Regions from separate parts of the Homo sapiens genome. Here region 1 is linked to region 2. A link means that fine-mapping ties the variant in region 2 to the expression of a gene that starts in the linked region. Tissue or cell type: whole blood. Region 2 holds a variant in brackets; the other region holds the start of a gene. All regions are shown on one strand. Distances are from middle to middle.

Region 1 (8,111 bases), 70 kb before region 2:
TTCAATATTTCATTTACCGTTGTTATATATTCTTATTTCAACTTTTATTCTTAATTATGAAACATTTCAAAATGATGCCAGATATTCATACACCCACCATCTAGTTTGAACAGATAATAACATTTGCATAGATATTTATAGTGTTGTCTTTTTAGCAAGTTTTTCTACGTAAAGAACTATAAAATACTTTTTAGCAAGTTTTCTGTATATAAACTTTTTATATATAAAGTTTTTCTATAACATGTCTACTATAAAGAAGACATTAAAATATTTGTCGATGTCATCAGTCAAATCACTTAAACTGAAATTATCTGCTAACTTCCACATAAAAGCTTATTAGAACTTCAAAAAATGCCAGAGAGACCGCTAAGAAATTCTTTCCAATGCTTCTTGCACCACCTCATTGTTCAAAAACAATACTAATAATAATCACCAGAATTTGGGTTTGCTTACATGCAAAAACATTTCTAAATAAGTAAACTAAAAATGAAATGGAAAGCACACTTTGTATACTTTCTGTTAATAATTTATTTTATAATTATTATAAATATTTATTTTGGAAAAAGATTGTTTTGGCATTTCTGTTCCCATTTGTCCTGTACTTCATGTGTGTGGGTGCATTTTATATTTATATTTATATATATATATATACACACACACACATACATATGTATACACACACATACACATATGTATCTTAAATACATATATTTAAACTTTAAATAAAATAAAGATTGTATTCTACTCTCTTCTGAAAGTCCTTGATTACCAGTGGATGTATAAAGACGTGATAACTAATACAGAACAAGTTTTATGGTACAGAAATTATTAATCACTAAAATAATACATTAAGCTTTGTAAGTAATATATTTAGAAATAATTTAAATGCCAGTAGAAACTTTGACTTATTTATTCATTTTAGGGTACAACTAGAAAATGAGTAGTGGTTCATCTTTTACTTGCAGGTAAAGGTTGAGGAGGAAATTCTCACATTCAAGATGATGCTGTCATTATAATGAAGTAAGATGGAACAAAAAGTTGTATGTGAAGTACCCTGGGCAAGCCCCTTTGATAGTTTTAGCTACAGATGCCTGTGTGTTTGCAATGTGGGCCTCTTATGGCTGTATTCTATTAGCTCTGGGTTTACTGTGATATTATGTATATTTGTCTTGGGCCAAACAGCTTGCTTGCCTCAGTTGAAGTCTAAAAGATACTATGGGCTTAAGACACTTTTTGTTTATTTGCTATTTGAGGTGAATTATTCCTTCTTTGCTTCTTTGCTATTCATAATATTATGATATATAATTTTGGCTATGCAATTGTGTAATCTTTTCTATAATATTATTTTGGGCTTCTGTATAAAAGCTTAAAAATATGTTCCACGAATGAGATGCTTATGCTTGTTTATTCAATATTTTTTTCTGTTGGACTTTGGACAAAGTCTTGCCTAGTGGGATTCACATATAAGGAAAGCTTTTTTTTCTTGTTACTCACAGAATTACGATGTTTAAAATAGCTATTTGAGTTCAATGATACTATACTTTCCATAATAAATTTAGAGTACTTTTTTCACTTCAAAGAATGCTTTTGAGTTTTCCATGAATAGGTTTCACTAACTACATTTTTAAAAAGACCTTAGCTCTGAGGTTTATCCTCTTTTACATCTTAAGGTACATTTTTCATGATTTCTAAAATATTTGCTTTTTAAAAATACTAGGACTGTTAATTTTAAAAATTCATTTTTCAAAATTTTCAGAAATTTTAATATTAAGAATCTGTTTAATTTTTTTTATTTCTTGGTCAAGGCAGTCATATGGTTTGAGATTTCTCAGTTCTTTAAAATGGGAGTTCATAAATTCAACCTGTTCTAAGCTAACTGTAGTGATTCCTAGCTGTCGTTTACTTAACACTATTAACCATTAAACACTACTGACATCTCAACTCAAAACATACACTTAGGTATAGGAAATAGTATACAAACATTTTATTTAACCATATCGTATGCAGAAAATTTAAAATTTGAATCTTTCTTATAGTCCTTGGACTCAAATCTTCATGCAAATACAATTTATATAATCAATTATATTTGACTTGTGTTTTTTAAAGTGGCTAAGGAAATGAGTACCAACTTATTAGGGAATATTTGATGAATATTTTTCGTTTTGGTTGAACAAATGACTACGTAGAGTTATATTTACTTCAAAATCAATAAAATACCACTATTAACCTTGCTCTGACGCTCCCACCCCCACCCTTCAACTCGTAGAATATTTTTTGGTGGTAACTAGACTGACCTTTGCCAAAATGTAATTACATTCAGAGAGAAATACAATTTTCCCCTTCAAATCCAGGTGAAAGGCTACCATGCTGGGCTTGCGGAGGGCATAGTTGAGTAGGACAGCCAGAACTTCTGGCTAGGTCATCGGGTCGGATTACCCTGCCATGTACCCCTCAGTATTTACTTCCAGAGATGGGCAACTTACTATAGTCTTCATGTTTAAGGAATTCAAACCCAAATGAAAAGTGTTGTGAAAGCATAAATATCTCTGCTTGTATACTACAGTACTGAATATGAAACCACATATTGCAATAAAAATAACTAACGATGGCCCATGCATTTCACAAGGCGCTCTCATACACCTGAAGGGGCAGTGGAAAGGTTCAGAGCACCCAGGCTGTCCCAAAGAGGGCGGAATCAAATCTGGGCGCAGGTGGGTACCCGGAAAAAATTCTTGGTGGAGATGGCATCTGAGAGAGGCGTCGAAGGACACGGAGGGTTGAGGATAGGAGAGAGGCCACTCCAGATGGAAAAACACCCTCGTTTTCCAAATGCCAGTTATACCACGGGGCCTGTGATAGCCGCCACGTTTCTAGAAGACCCCTAGAAGAGCAGGGGTCCGACCAAGGAAGTACTTCCGCTGTTCAATTTGCTAAGTTTGCATTCGGAGAGTACAAGGGCGAGCTCTGGCTCTTGCAGGTGGACTCCCTCTCCCTTAGCTCTGACTGCGAGAAGCTCCCACCCGCAAAGGGCTACTGTGCCAAAAGCGAGCGTAGTGGCCGCCGCTTCCCCCACAAAATTCCGTCACTCGGGAGCTGCGTTGCAGTGGAGAAACCTGGGTCCCGTCCGGGCCCAAGGGAGGAGGCTCAGCACGGCCGCTCCCGCAGCCCCGTCCAGGCGCCTCTTCCCTCCCCCTCCTTTCCGCGGCGGTCGCGGCGGCGGCTGGAGCGGGAGCCGGGGGCGGCGAGGGGCGGAGCCGGGGCGGAGCCACGGCGCTGGCGGCCCCGGCGGCGGCGGCAGGTGTGGATGGGGCGAAGGTGCGGGAACGTCCACTCCCGCGCGCCCCTCTCGGGGACCAGGGCGGCCTCCCAGGAGGAGCTTGGTGAGCAGCTGCGACCTGTGCATAACTTGGGGCGCCGCCAGGGGCTCGCAGGTTCCACGTCCGGCGCCTGGAGAAGGAAGACGCGCGTCCCCGGCCGCGGCGCCGAAGCCGGCTGGGGGACCGCCTGGTCCCGGGCCAGAGCTGGGAGGCGGTGTTCCGTGAGCCGCCTGGTCTGGGGTGCGGGGGGCGGGAAGCGGCCCCTTCGTGTGCGCTTGGGCGAGGCCGGGCGGCGCTTCTGTCCTCCTACTCGGACCCGCAGGTAAGCTGGGAGAGCCTTGGTCCCGCTGCGCGCTGAGCTGGCTAGGGAGGCGCCCCTCAAGGAGTTGAGGAGGCTTCGGGGCCTGGGCACACGGCAGTGGGCACACGGCAGTCGACACCCGGGTCCGAGGACCGCCGGCGCCCGTTGGCGCCCAAACGAGGATGCGCCGCGGGGTCCGGCGCATCCCGGAGCGCCGGCCGCCCTTGGCTCTTCGCGGAACCGCCGCCTCCTCTTGTCCAAATCTCAGGTCGTCATCCTGGCCCGAAGTCACAGGTTCGCTCTCTGTCCCTAAACCTCGAGGAAGGAGTTGTGTGTGTCCATGAGCGTGTTGGCGGAGAGCGCTTTCATACAGCGATGTTTGAGTTGAGCTCATTTTACCACCTAAAATTACTGTCACTTTAAAACTTAACTAAGCTTTCCCTTCTTAGAAGAGAAATTAGGCTTGTGGTTTACACCCATGGCTAGTAGGATTAAAGTTTGTTTTTGCCCTGTACAGCTGAGAAAATGTTTTGTAAAATCCTGAATTTTCCAACAGTACTTCTAAAAGAGCCTCCGATTCTCCAGCGAGACAATGGCAGTCATTAAAAAAAACACAGCGGAAATGTTCACTTAGAGCGGCTTCACTAGGAGAGAAGTTAAGGAAACCTTAGGCAAAAGTGACCCCTTAATTGACACCTTACAGGACCGTTTTTTTGACCTTGTATTAGTGGTAATAGGACTAAGAATGACAGCTCAAGAACTATACCTGGTTTGGAACTGAGGCTGTGGCCAGACGCCCCTCACTTTCCGGGGACCTCTAGTTTCTGGAATCGGGCCTTTGAACTTCCTTATTGAAATCCTGGCAGCTTTGAAGTGAAATTAGGAAAATGATCCTATTTATTCGCTGGAGTTTATTAACTCTGCATTAAAGTGTTTATCTCCTGGGCCAAAATTGAAACAATATTGTATTTTGCATTTTGTTTTAAATAAATTTTTACCAATTCAGGTAAAAATTGGATTTGAAAATGACAGTTAAGTCTAGGTTTATTTGTTGTCGAGTTTTGTATGAGGGGGCTGACTTTTAAGTTGTTTTTTAAAGTCCAATCCTGGTTATTTTTCATTGTCTTCAGAGGTTAATCTTTAGGTGAGAACTTTATCTTGATTTTAAGGCAAAAAAAGTAAAAAAGGCAGTGATTTAAGTCACCCAAAGAACTATAGTTCCTCCTTTCTCTTTTTTTCCTTAACTTGAGACAGAGCTTCCTGAAAATTGGGCAGCTGCTTTAATCTTATCATATAAAAAATGTTTCAAGTTGAATTTGGGGCCCTAAAATGGAAAATTTTGATTTGTGTTTGTTTTAATAGAATCATTAGACCTTATGGAATTATCAGCTTGGAGTGTTTATTTTCTATTTATACCATATTACTACTTTGTTGTACATGTTAATATTGCTTAGATGATAGGTAAATGTTTAGAGAAACCAGACTTTAATAAAGTACAGAATTATTCATTGGATGAAATTTTATAATTTTTCAGTCTTATAAATTCTGAAAAGTGTATAACAGAGACAAAGTGTTTAACCTATAATGTGGATTGTTGGCCCTTTTTGGAATTTTAAACGAGAAGGGAGGTATGAAATGCTTTATTCTATATTTAAGCATCTTTTTAGAAGTGGAAATAAATTGGAGGATCACTTTTATGTACAGTGTAATGGCTAGATAGCTATTCTAGAAACTACAACAAATGCTTGAGGAAGTAAAATTAGAAGGTAGTATAAAATTGTGTATTATATTTTTACAATTTCAAGGAGATTGCATACTTATAAATTTCATATCCTCAAGTGAAGAGTGTTGAACTGAATAAAATAGAATTTTTCTACATACCATGTTTTTCTCAGATTAAAAAAAATAGTCATCTTGGTTTGCCTAAAAAACTAAGCTGTAGTTAAATTTGGTTGGTACGTATTTGGGATAATTAAAAATACTTTAATTCATGTACTTTAACAGTTCTTTTCTTCAGTAACAGGTTTTTATAAGAAATGTTTTACTTGAAACATTGACATTTAATGACAGATGTCATTATATTTTTCATATAATTGCCACAGTTTTTCTTCATTGTGTGTATCTAGGTAGCTTTGGCATATAAACATCGGGGGGGCTCTAAACAAATTTTAACTGTAAAAAAGCAAGAGATGCAATCCCAGATTATTAACATTTGAGGAATGAAATCCAGCTTTAAGATAAAATGGCTTTTTGAAGACACTTTAAAATACATATAATGATAGGATTCTTAGAGAGTAATGTTTTTGGTAGTTCTTTTAATCATAAAATGAATTAACAAAAGAATTGATGCTTAAGTTTGAACAGCTTCTTGGTTTCACAACTATTTCCTTAGAAATAATCTCCCAAGTGATTCAGAAATTTTTATGGAAGTGAGGAAAAAAAACAGCAACTTTTGTTGGATCTAGGGTAGGTCAATCTTAACTAAGAAACAGCGAAATTTGATCTTTGTGTTATAAACTGTAGTTTCACTGAGGACTTCTTAACTATGTCATCTTTTTAAATACAATTAAGTGTTTAGAAAGTAAGTCAGTTATTTTATTTGTACAATATAAGTGCTTGCTGTATTTATGGATATTGAGGCTTTTTTATCCACATCTTATGTGAGAAGGCAGTCCAGGAAATTATTAAAATAATTTTGGTAAGAGTCTAGATGAAGGGGAAAAATCGATTGTATATATGTGTGCTGGTTTGCAGTATGGAGGGGAGTAAAAAGAGTCTGAGAACAAAACTTACTTTCGGACTTCCTAGAAGTTTCTGCTTTATTATGTAATTGAATTTTTTTGTCAGGATGTAGTTATTGGTTGTACTAAAATACAGCAGACAACAGAAAAAATAAATCTCATTTGAAAATCCTTAATCATGGCTTTATCGAATACACAGCTTACTCTATTTTGTCTAAATACCAGCTTCCAAGCTGTCAGCATTAATTTAGAAGCCAATTTCTAAATTAAATGTGTTATTAAGTAATTTCCATTTAAGAGCAATGTCCAAATAGCACTGATTCTTTAAGTAAAATAATAATTATATTAATAAAAATTATACTTTTGGGCAAATGGCAGGGGAAAAATGCCATTTTTATTGGCCTTGGAAACATTTATGCTAAGCAGTTTGTGGCCCAGTTTCCATTTCTGTGATTGTGCTGCCTCTGACAAAGGATCGACTACTGAGCGGTGAAAGATTGTATAGGGAAAATTAATAAAACCTGCTACGTGGGTTGATCATAGTTCTGCCTGATAAGCCTGAGTCCATATGAATCTGAGCCAGTTAAGAAGTTCTGAGTCTTAATTCCCCACAGCTCTTTCACATTGATTCCTGTGAGTTAGCAGTAGTGAAGGAGTCCCCTTCTCTGCCATTTGCAAAGCCAACTTCATGATCCGCAGCAAATCAAACCCACGAAATGTTTTGGTCTTGTCCAATTCAGCTTTACTTCCTTGCCAGGGGCATAACAGTTGAAGTTAAAAGACTTAGACCCAAATGGGAAAATTAGTGCCATTTGTGTATAGGCAGTAGCCTTGTTCATACTACTTTCAACCTAATTAGAAAGAAATAAAGTATGATTTGATTGTAAGTCCGCCAGGGTAGGTAGCATATAGGGGAGTGTGGCTCAAGAATCTAAGTTTTTCACTTATTTTGAATTATTAAGAGTTTGCGTTATAGTTCTCTTTTTTGTTTTACTTCTATAGAGTGCTTCTACAATTTGGAAGAGGGGAAAAGTACAATAAAATGGCAAATATTAAAGTGACCAAGAAGGCATAGCATTGGTTACAGAAAAGTTCTTTCACTTCTCCTTAGGTAATTCTGTGTTGGATTTTCTTCTTTGTATTTTAAATCTAGGTTCTTTGCTTAGAGGTAATTTTGATTCTGAGGAGGGTAGCAGGAAAGGAAAATGAACTGCATCTAAAAACCAGTGTAATCCGACAACTGACGTCTTATTTCTGCCAAATTTCAGGTGGACTTGGGCCACGTTAGTAAATTGGATATGTATAAAATAAGATAAAGAAATCATCTCAGAAAGTCCTGCTCTAGAAGCTTCTAGTATGTGAGGTGAGACTATTTTAGAGTCCAAGGTTTGAATACAAGCAAAGGATTGATTTCCCCAAAAGTCAAACTGGTACGATCTTACTATCTAAAATAACTTGAGATTTTTGAGTTATAGCACATGTTGAAGTAGAAATTCCAGTCATAAAGTCATTATTGAATGATTATCCTGGGGAGTTTTGCCTCACTGATCAAACCTTTTACTGATTATCTCAACTTCATTAACTAAATAAAAAATTTCATATAAGAAGCAGTGGACTAAAGCACTAAAAGTGTGAGTTCTCTGAAGTAAAATCCACATAAAGTAAATGAAGCCTTAAAAATTAGGATTTAAGTAGCTTTTAACTAGAGTGGTTTTTGAAGTAAAAACTGGTAATATTGTCACTTGACATTTT
Region 2 (8,111 bases):
TGCACCAATACTGTCAAATACTTTAATGTGTGTTTCCTACCAACAGAGATATTTTCCCTGCATAACCACAACAAAATTCAGAAATTAACATTGTTACGTTAGCACCATATGATACTCAGTGTTCGTATTTAGATTTGTAGTCCCAATAATCCAATAATATTCTTTTTTTTTTTTGAAATGGAGTCTTGTTCTGTCACCCAGGCTGGAGTGCAGTGGCATAATCTCAGTTTACGGCACTCTCCACCTCTCAGGTTCAAGCTATTCTCCTGCCTCAGCCTCCCAAGTAGCTGGGATTACAGGCACCCGTCACCACACCCAGCTAATTTTTGTATTTTTGGTAGAGATGGGGTTACACCATGTTGGCCAGGCTGGTTTCAAACTCCTGACCTCAGGTGATACACCCGCCTCAGCCTCCAAAAGTGCTGGGATTACAGGTGTGAGCCACGGTGCTTGGACCCTATAATATTCCTAGTAGCAAATGGATCCTGTTCAGAATCATGCTATGCATTCAGTTGCTATATTCTTTAGTCTCTTATAGTCTGGAGCAGTTGCTGGGTCTTTGTTGATTTTCATGACCTTGAACGATTACAGGGCAATTGTTTTACAGAATATTTCTCCTCACTCCACTCAAGTTATGACTCCCCACAGCAGCCCCGCTCCACGGATGCTCTAATCACTCTTAGGCTGTGACACCCATGCCAGGTTCTCTCTCCACATAAACAGTCACCTTTGCCTGTCTGAGCTCCAGCAGTGTGGCTTCCTGCCCTTTCCAGCAAAATGCTTACATTGTTTTGTCCATCTATTGTCTTTAGGACTGAATTTTTCAAAAAGGGAAAGGGAAGCAGAGATTAGATATCAATTTAAGATCAATTCCAGCTCCAGAATTCTATGATAGATAAATTAATATGGTCAAATATTTGAAAGTTTATGCTCAGAAAATGGAGTAGAGCTGTGTCGATACCATTGGGAAAAATAACCATATCTGAAATAATAACTGAGGCCAGAGCAAAGGGAGGCGCTGAGTAGCTTGGGATAGGGCTAGATGTGGCACCCTGTGTGTGGCACGCTGGAGAGTCTGGCCAGAGCACAAGATCCCAGAGTGGTCAGAGAAGTTAGAATATGTTTACAGACGCCCCCACCCCCCGACCCCCAGAAAGGGAGAGGAGGTAGTAGATGGCCAGAAAGCAAGGCATGTCCATTAGAGTGGTCAAGGCAAAAAAGGAAAATATAACAATACTAACCAGCAAGTATCTTAATATGGATTAGACAGACTAGTGAGCTAATGTGTTATGGGAACAATACACCTGGTCTGAGTAATGTATTGCTGATCATACATTATCAGACCACTAGATACCATTAATTTGTGATATCTTACCAACAGCAAAGTTTATCCCAGGCTCTAAGTAATTGATATTATGCTGCCATCCTTTGGTTGAATTTAAAATGCCTCGTTTACTAACTGGAACTGTTTTTGTGTGTTTTAAACAGAGGGTATCACAATTTTAATTACATTTTTTAGATTGACAGTAATGATAAATAATTTATGGAGACAAGTGAATAAATAAAACTTGATACTTATGTAATAAATTTAAAAGTCATTGAAAAGCCCATTCTAGCTAAAGATGAACTACCAGTCGTTTGTTTAATTTATTTTAGAGACTTCGTCATACTGACTGATACTTAAGATTTAGCCCTTTTTTCATCATCATGACACTTTCCATTGTCTTTCTCTAAGCAATGTAAGCATGCAGTGAATTTCCTTAATACCATCCTTAGATTCAGACAAGAGTGACCTATGCTCTACTCTAGGTCTTGCCCTTTTGAGAAACCTGAATATCAGACATGATTCAATTTATACAACACATGTGTATGCACACACGGAAGTGCACATACACACACATGCATAGACACACACAACATTTTAAAAAAGCATCTAGTACCCACATCACTTAGGATCTGGTACTCAGTGCTCACATATGGCCCAATAACTCTAAATATACATGCTCATTAGTAATTCCATTTGGTACCCAGGGAGATATTTCTCCACATCTCTTGCTTTCAGTCCCCTACAAAAAATTGACTGTACCTGATGCCATGAAGGAGACGTTGCCTTGGAATGTAGGGGATTTGAGCTGCAGAGGAAAGAGAAGACACATTAATTGCCTAGTAAACCCTTCCTCAAGGACAGCAGGAACGCAATAGATTCTTACAAAATGAAATACCATGTCTCAATAGTCCCCAGTGTCCATTCTCTTGCTTGTCTTTACGTAACAATTAGTGATTCAGCTGTTTGGTGGTCTCTTCACACGGACGCGCATGAAATTTGGTGCCTTGACTCGGAACAGGGGACCTCCCTTGGGAGATCAATCCCCCATCCTCCTGCTCTTTGCTCTGTGAGAAAGATCCACCTACGACCTCAGGTCCTCAGACCAACCAGCCCAAGGAACATCTCACCAATTTCAAATCCGGTAAGCGGCCTCATCTTACTCTCTTCTCCAACCTCTCTCACTGTCCCTCAACCACTTTCTCCTTTCCACTCTTCAATCTCTCCCTTCTCTTAATTTCAATTCCTTTCATTTTCTGGGAGAGACAAAGGAGACACGTTTTATTCATAGACCCAAAACTCCGGCGCCGGTCACGGATTGGGAAGGCAGCCTTCCCTTGGTGTTTAATCATTGCAGGGACGCCTCTCTGATCATTCAGCCATGTTTCAAGGGTGTCAGACCACGCAGGGACGCCTGCCTTGGTCCTTCACCCTTAGCGGCAAGTCCCGCTTTTCTGGGGAAGGGGCAAGTACCTCAACCCCTTCTCTCCTTGTCTCTACCCCTTCTCTGCTTTTCTGGGAGAGGGGCAAATAGCCCTCAACCTCTTCTCTCCTTGTCTCTACCCCTTCTCTGCTTTCCTGGGGCAGGGGCAAGTACCCCTCAACCCCTTCTCCTTCACCCTTAGCGGCGAGTCCCGCTTTCCTAGGGGGCAAGAACCCCCAACCGCTTATTTCCATGCCCCAACCTCTTATCTCTGCGCCCCAACCTCTTATCTCTGCACCCCAATCGCTTATTTCCATGCCCCAACCTCTTATCTCTGCGCCCCAATCCCTTATTTCTGTGCCCCAACCCTTTCTCTGCTTTTCTGGAGGGCAAGAAACCCCCACCCCTTCTCCGTGTCTCTACTCTTTTCTCTGGGCTTGCCTCCTTCACTATGGGCAAGCTTCCACCTTCCATTCCTCCTTCTTCTCCCTTAGCCTGTATTCTTAAGAACTTAAAACCTCTTCAATCCTCACCTGACCTAAAACCTAAATGCCTTATT[T/G]TCTTCTGCAATGCCGCTTGACCCCAATACAAACTCGACAGTAGTTCCAAATAGCCAGAAAATGGCACTTTGAATTTTTCCATCCTGCAATATCTAAATAATTCTTGTCGTAAAATAGGCAAACGGTCTGAGGTGCCTGACATCCAGGCATTCTTTTACACATCAGTCCCTTCCTAGTCTCTGCGCCCAGTGCAACTCGTCCCAAATCTTCCTTCTTTCCCTCCCGCCTGTCCCCTCAGTCCCAACCCCAAGCGTCGCTGAGTCTTTCTAATCTTCCTTTTCTACAGACCCATCTGACCTCTCCCCTCCTCGCCAGGCCGAGCTAGGTCCCAATTCTTCCTCAGCCTCCGTTCCTCCACCCTATAATCTTTTTATCGCCTCCCCTCCTCACACCTGGTCGGGCTTACAGTTTCGTTCCGTGACTAGCCCTCCCCCACCTGCCCAGCAATTTACTCTTAAAAAGGTGGCTGGAGCCAAAGGCATAATCAAGGTTAATGCTCCTTTTTCTTTATCCCAAATCAGATAGCGTTTAGGCTCTTTTTCATCAAATATAAAAACCCAGCCCAGTTCATGGCTCGTTCGGCAGCAACCCTGAGATGCTTTACAGCCCTAGACCCTAAAAGGTCAAAAGGCCATCTTATTCTCAATATACATTTTATTACCCAATCTGCTCCCAACATTAAATAAAACTCCAAAAATTAAATTCCGGCCCTCAAATCCCACAACAGGATTTAATTAACCTTGCCTTCAAGGTGTACAATAATAGAAAAAAGTTTCAACTCCTTGCCTCCACTGTGAGACAAACCCCAGCCACATCTCCAGCACACAAGAACTTCCAAACGCCTGAACCGCAGCGGCCAGGCATTCCTCCAGAACCTCCTCCCCCAGGAGTTTGCTGCAAGTGCCAGAAATGTGGCCACCAGGCCAAGGAATGCCTGCAGCCCAAGATTCCTCCTAAGCCGTGTCCCATCTGTGCGGGACCCCACTGGCAATCGGACTGTCCAACTCACCTGGCAGCCACTCCCAGAGTCCCTGGAACTCTGGCCCAAGGCTCTCTGACTGCTTCCCAGATCTTCTTGGCTTAGCGGCTGAAGACTGACGCTGCCCGATCGCCTCGGAAGCCCCCTAGACCATCACGGACGCCAAGCTTCGGGTAACTCTCACAGTGGAAGGTAAGTCTGTCCCCTTCTTAATCAATACGGAGGCTACCCACTCCATATTACCTTCTTTTCAAGGGCCTGTTTCCCTTGCCCCCATAACTGTTGTGGGTATTGACGGCCAGGCTTCTAAACCTCTTAAAACTCCCCAACTCTGGTGCCAACTTAGACAATACTCTTTTAAGCACTCCTTTTTAGTTATCCCCACCTGCCCAGTTCCCTTATTAGGCTGAGACATTTTAACCAAATTATCTGCTTCCCTGACTATTCCTGGACCATAGCCGCATCTCATTGATGCCCTTCTTCCCAATCCAAAGCCTCTTTTGCGTCCTCCTCTTGTATTCCCCCATCTTAACCCACAAGTATAAGATACCTCTACTCCCTCCTTGGCGACCGATCATGCACCCCTTACCATCTCATTAAAACCTAATCACCCTTACCTGGCTCAATGCCAATATCCCATCCCACAGCATGCTTTGAAAGGATTAAAGCCTGTTAACACTTGCCTTCACTTAGACTGACCCTGACACCCATTAGGCTCAGCAAATTACCTGGGCTATACTGCCGCAAGGCTTCACAGACAGCCCCCATTACTTCAGTCAAGCCCAAATTTCATCCTCATCTGTTAGTCATACTCCTATTCACCGTTCTCAACTACTCATACATGCCCTGCTCTTGTTTACACTGCTGGTTTACACTGTTTCTCCAAGCCATCGCAGCTGATATCTCCTGGTGCTATCCCCAAACTGCCACTCTAAACTCTTGAAGTAAATAAATAATCTTTGCTGGCAGGACTATGCTGAATCTCCTTAGGCACTCTCTAATTAGATGTCCTAGGTCCTCCCAATTCTTAGTCCTTTTATACCTGTTTTTCTCCTTCTCTTATTCCATTTAGTTTGTCACTTCATCCAAGACCGTATCCAGGCCAACCAATCATTCTATATGACAGATGTTTCTTCTAACATCCCCACAATATCACCCCTTACCACAAGACCTCCCTTCAGCTTAATCTCTCCCACTCTAGGTTCCCACGCCGCCCCAATCCCGCTTGAAGCAGCCCTGAGAAACATCGCCCATTCTCTGTCCATATCACCCGCCAGAAATTTTTGCCGCCCCAACACTTCACTATTTTGTTTTATTTTTCTTATTAATATAAGAAGGCAGGAATGTCAGGCCTCTGAGCCCAAGCCAAGCCATTGCATCCCCTGTGACTTGCACGTATACGCCCAGATGGCCTGAAGTAACTGAAGAATCACAAAAGAAGTGAACATGCCCTGCCCCACCTTAACTGATGACATTCCACCACAAAAGAAGTGTAAATGGCCAGTCCTTGCCTTAAGTGATGACATTACCTTGTGAAAGTCCTTTTCCTGGCTCATCCTGGCTCGAAAAGCACCCCCACTGAGCACCTTGCGAACCCCCACTCCTGCCCACCAGAGAACAAACCCCCTTTGAGTGTAATTTTCCTTTACCTACCCAAATCCTATAAAACGGCCCCACCCTTATCTCCCTTCCCTGACTCTTTTCGGACTCAGCCCGCCTGCACCCAGGTGAAATAAAGAGCCATGTTGCTCAAAAAAAAAAAAAAAAAAAAAAAACAATTAGTGATTCAGGAGGGACTCATAAATTATGATGGGCATTGGCAATAGTTGTACATGGAGGCTGGAAAATATTTCTCAATATTAATCAATTTATTTTACTCTTAAATCTTAATTTATGTTGGTCTAGACATATGCTGGAAGTGTGATACATTTTTTTTTACATTGTTATCCATATGAACCTTGTAAGATAGAATTGCATGTAATTTTACTTTTATAAACATTTTTAATGCTTAATACGTTTTTAATTAAAAGGTTAAGTATATGCTTTATTTAAATACTGTCAGTTTAAATTTGATATTAATTATACCACACATGTTGTCTTTTAATTTTGATAGATAACATTGTATAAAATATTTCATGTTTTTTGAAAATATAAAATATGTAATATTTTTAACATTTACTTTAGATTACATTTTTTGTGAAAACATTTTCAAAATTTCTAGACTTTGAATACAATTATATTTTGTTTTTAATCTTTTAGATCAGGGTTCAGCAAACCTTTCTGTAAAAGACCAGAGAGTAAATATTTCAGGTTTTGTAGACCATATAGTTCCTATCACAACTATTCAGCCTTGCTATTGTAGCATGAAAGTGCCATAACAAATGAGCATCATTGTGTTCTAGTAAAACTTTATTTACAAAAGTAGGTGGTAGGCCAGATGCAGTGGCTCACGCCTGTAATTCCAGCACTTTGGGAGGCCAAGGCGGGCAGATCACGAGGTCAGGAGATCGAGACCATCCTGGCTAAAACAGTGAAACCCCATCTCTACTAAAAATATAAAAAAATTAGCTGGGTGTGGTGGTGGGCGCCTGTAGTCCCAGCTACTTGGGAGGCTGAGGCAGGAGAATGGCGTGAACCTGGGAGGCGGAGCTTGCGGTTAGCCGAGATCAAGCCACTGCACGCCAGCCTGGGCGACAAAGCAAAACTCCATCTCAAAAAAAAAAAAAAAAAAAAAAAAAAAGAAGAAGCAGGAGGTGGTAGGACAGATTTGGTCCATAGGCTATAGTTTGCCAACTCCCACTTTAGATTATTTATAATGAGAGAACCTCCACTTCTAGTCATGAGGGACAACTAGATTTATCATCTCACTTTGAACAACTAGAATACTGAGTAAAATATACGAAAAATAGTTTTTAGACATTGGATAACAGACAGCGTAAGATAATGATCCTTGAGAGAAAGGAAAGAAATACAGTAAGCCCTACAATTGCTCCAGCTTAATGCTGGATAGAAAATTGGCAGGCTGCAGCACAAAGAGGAGGAAACTCCAACAGACCAGTGTTCTCAATGAGTTGATATGTCATAGTTTGGAGTTCAGGGAGGCAGAAAAATATTGGAGAAGATATTGCTGCACAGAGGGAAATTGGGGAAGAATGAATGAGAGCTACGAAGATCTGTAAAAATGTCTTCAGGAGTCTTTAGCTAATGTGTGGTTTGTGTATGTGCGTAAAGGAGTTACCCGATTAGGAAAAGAACACCCAGAAAGGAGCAGGCAGTACAGGCTGTCCCCAGTGCTAACACAGGGCTGGGGATATTTCATGTTTCCAGCAGCCAGAGGGCAAAAATCTCCAAATTCAGAGAGCATTAAGTAGAGTCCTCAAAAGACTATATTCTTGGTTACAAAGGCATTGCCCTAAATTATAAAGTCTGCTTCACTCATGCTAACAAAGCCAATGTCAGAGGAATCCAATTCCAAGTAACTCAACTATACCCTAAAACAAAGTTCAACTGTACGTAAAGGACTTAACAAATCCAACTCCCATTAAAGTAAAATTTACAATGCTCAGAATCCACTCAAAAGTTACCAAACATGCAAAAGACATAGGAAAATAGGACCCATAAAGAGTAGAAATATAATTGACAAGACCAGACTCAGAAATGACACAAATGATAGAATTATCAGAAAAGGAGATTAAACACCTACTATAAATGTACTCCATATGCTCAAGAATGTAGAGGAAAAGATGAATGTGATGAGGAAAGAAATGTAGATATGAAAAAGAAACAAATTCAACTTCTACAAATGAAAGTATAATATCTGAAGTG

What was found. PIP is the estimated chance that this variant, and not a neighbour inherited with it, causes the effect.
Region 1: it holds the start of MIR31HG, and the variant in region 2 is fine-mapped to the expression of MIR31HG in whole blood (TOPMed, PIP above 0.99).

Annotation. Positions count from the first base shown.
Region 1 is chr9:21,555,017-21,563,127 of GRCh38, reverse strand. MIR31HG (MIR31 host gene) reads left to right here and starts at 3,330. Exons shown (of 3, transcript NR_152879.1): 1 at 3,330-3,639. RefSeq lists an enhancer at 3,769-4,555.
Region 2 is chr9:21,485,256-21,493,366 of GRCh38, reverse strand. All of the region lies in intron 1 of MIR31HG (MIR31 host gene), which reads left to right. Among named protein-coding and RNA genes, the nearest start is that of IFNE, 7.0 kb to the right of the region's middle. RefSeq lists an enhancer at 5,498-6,087. The variant T/G (reference allele first, on the strand shown) is at 3,307.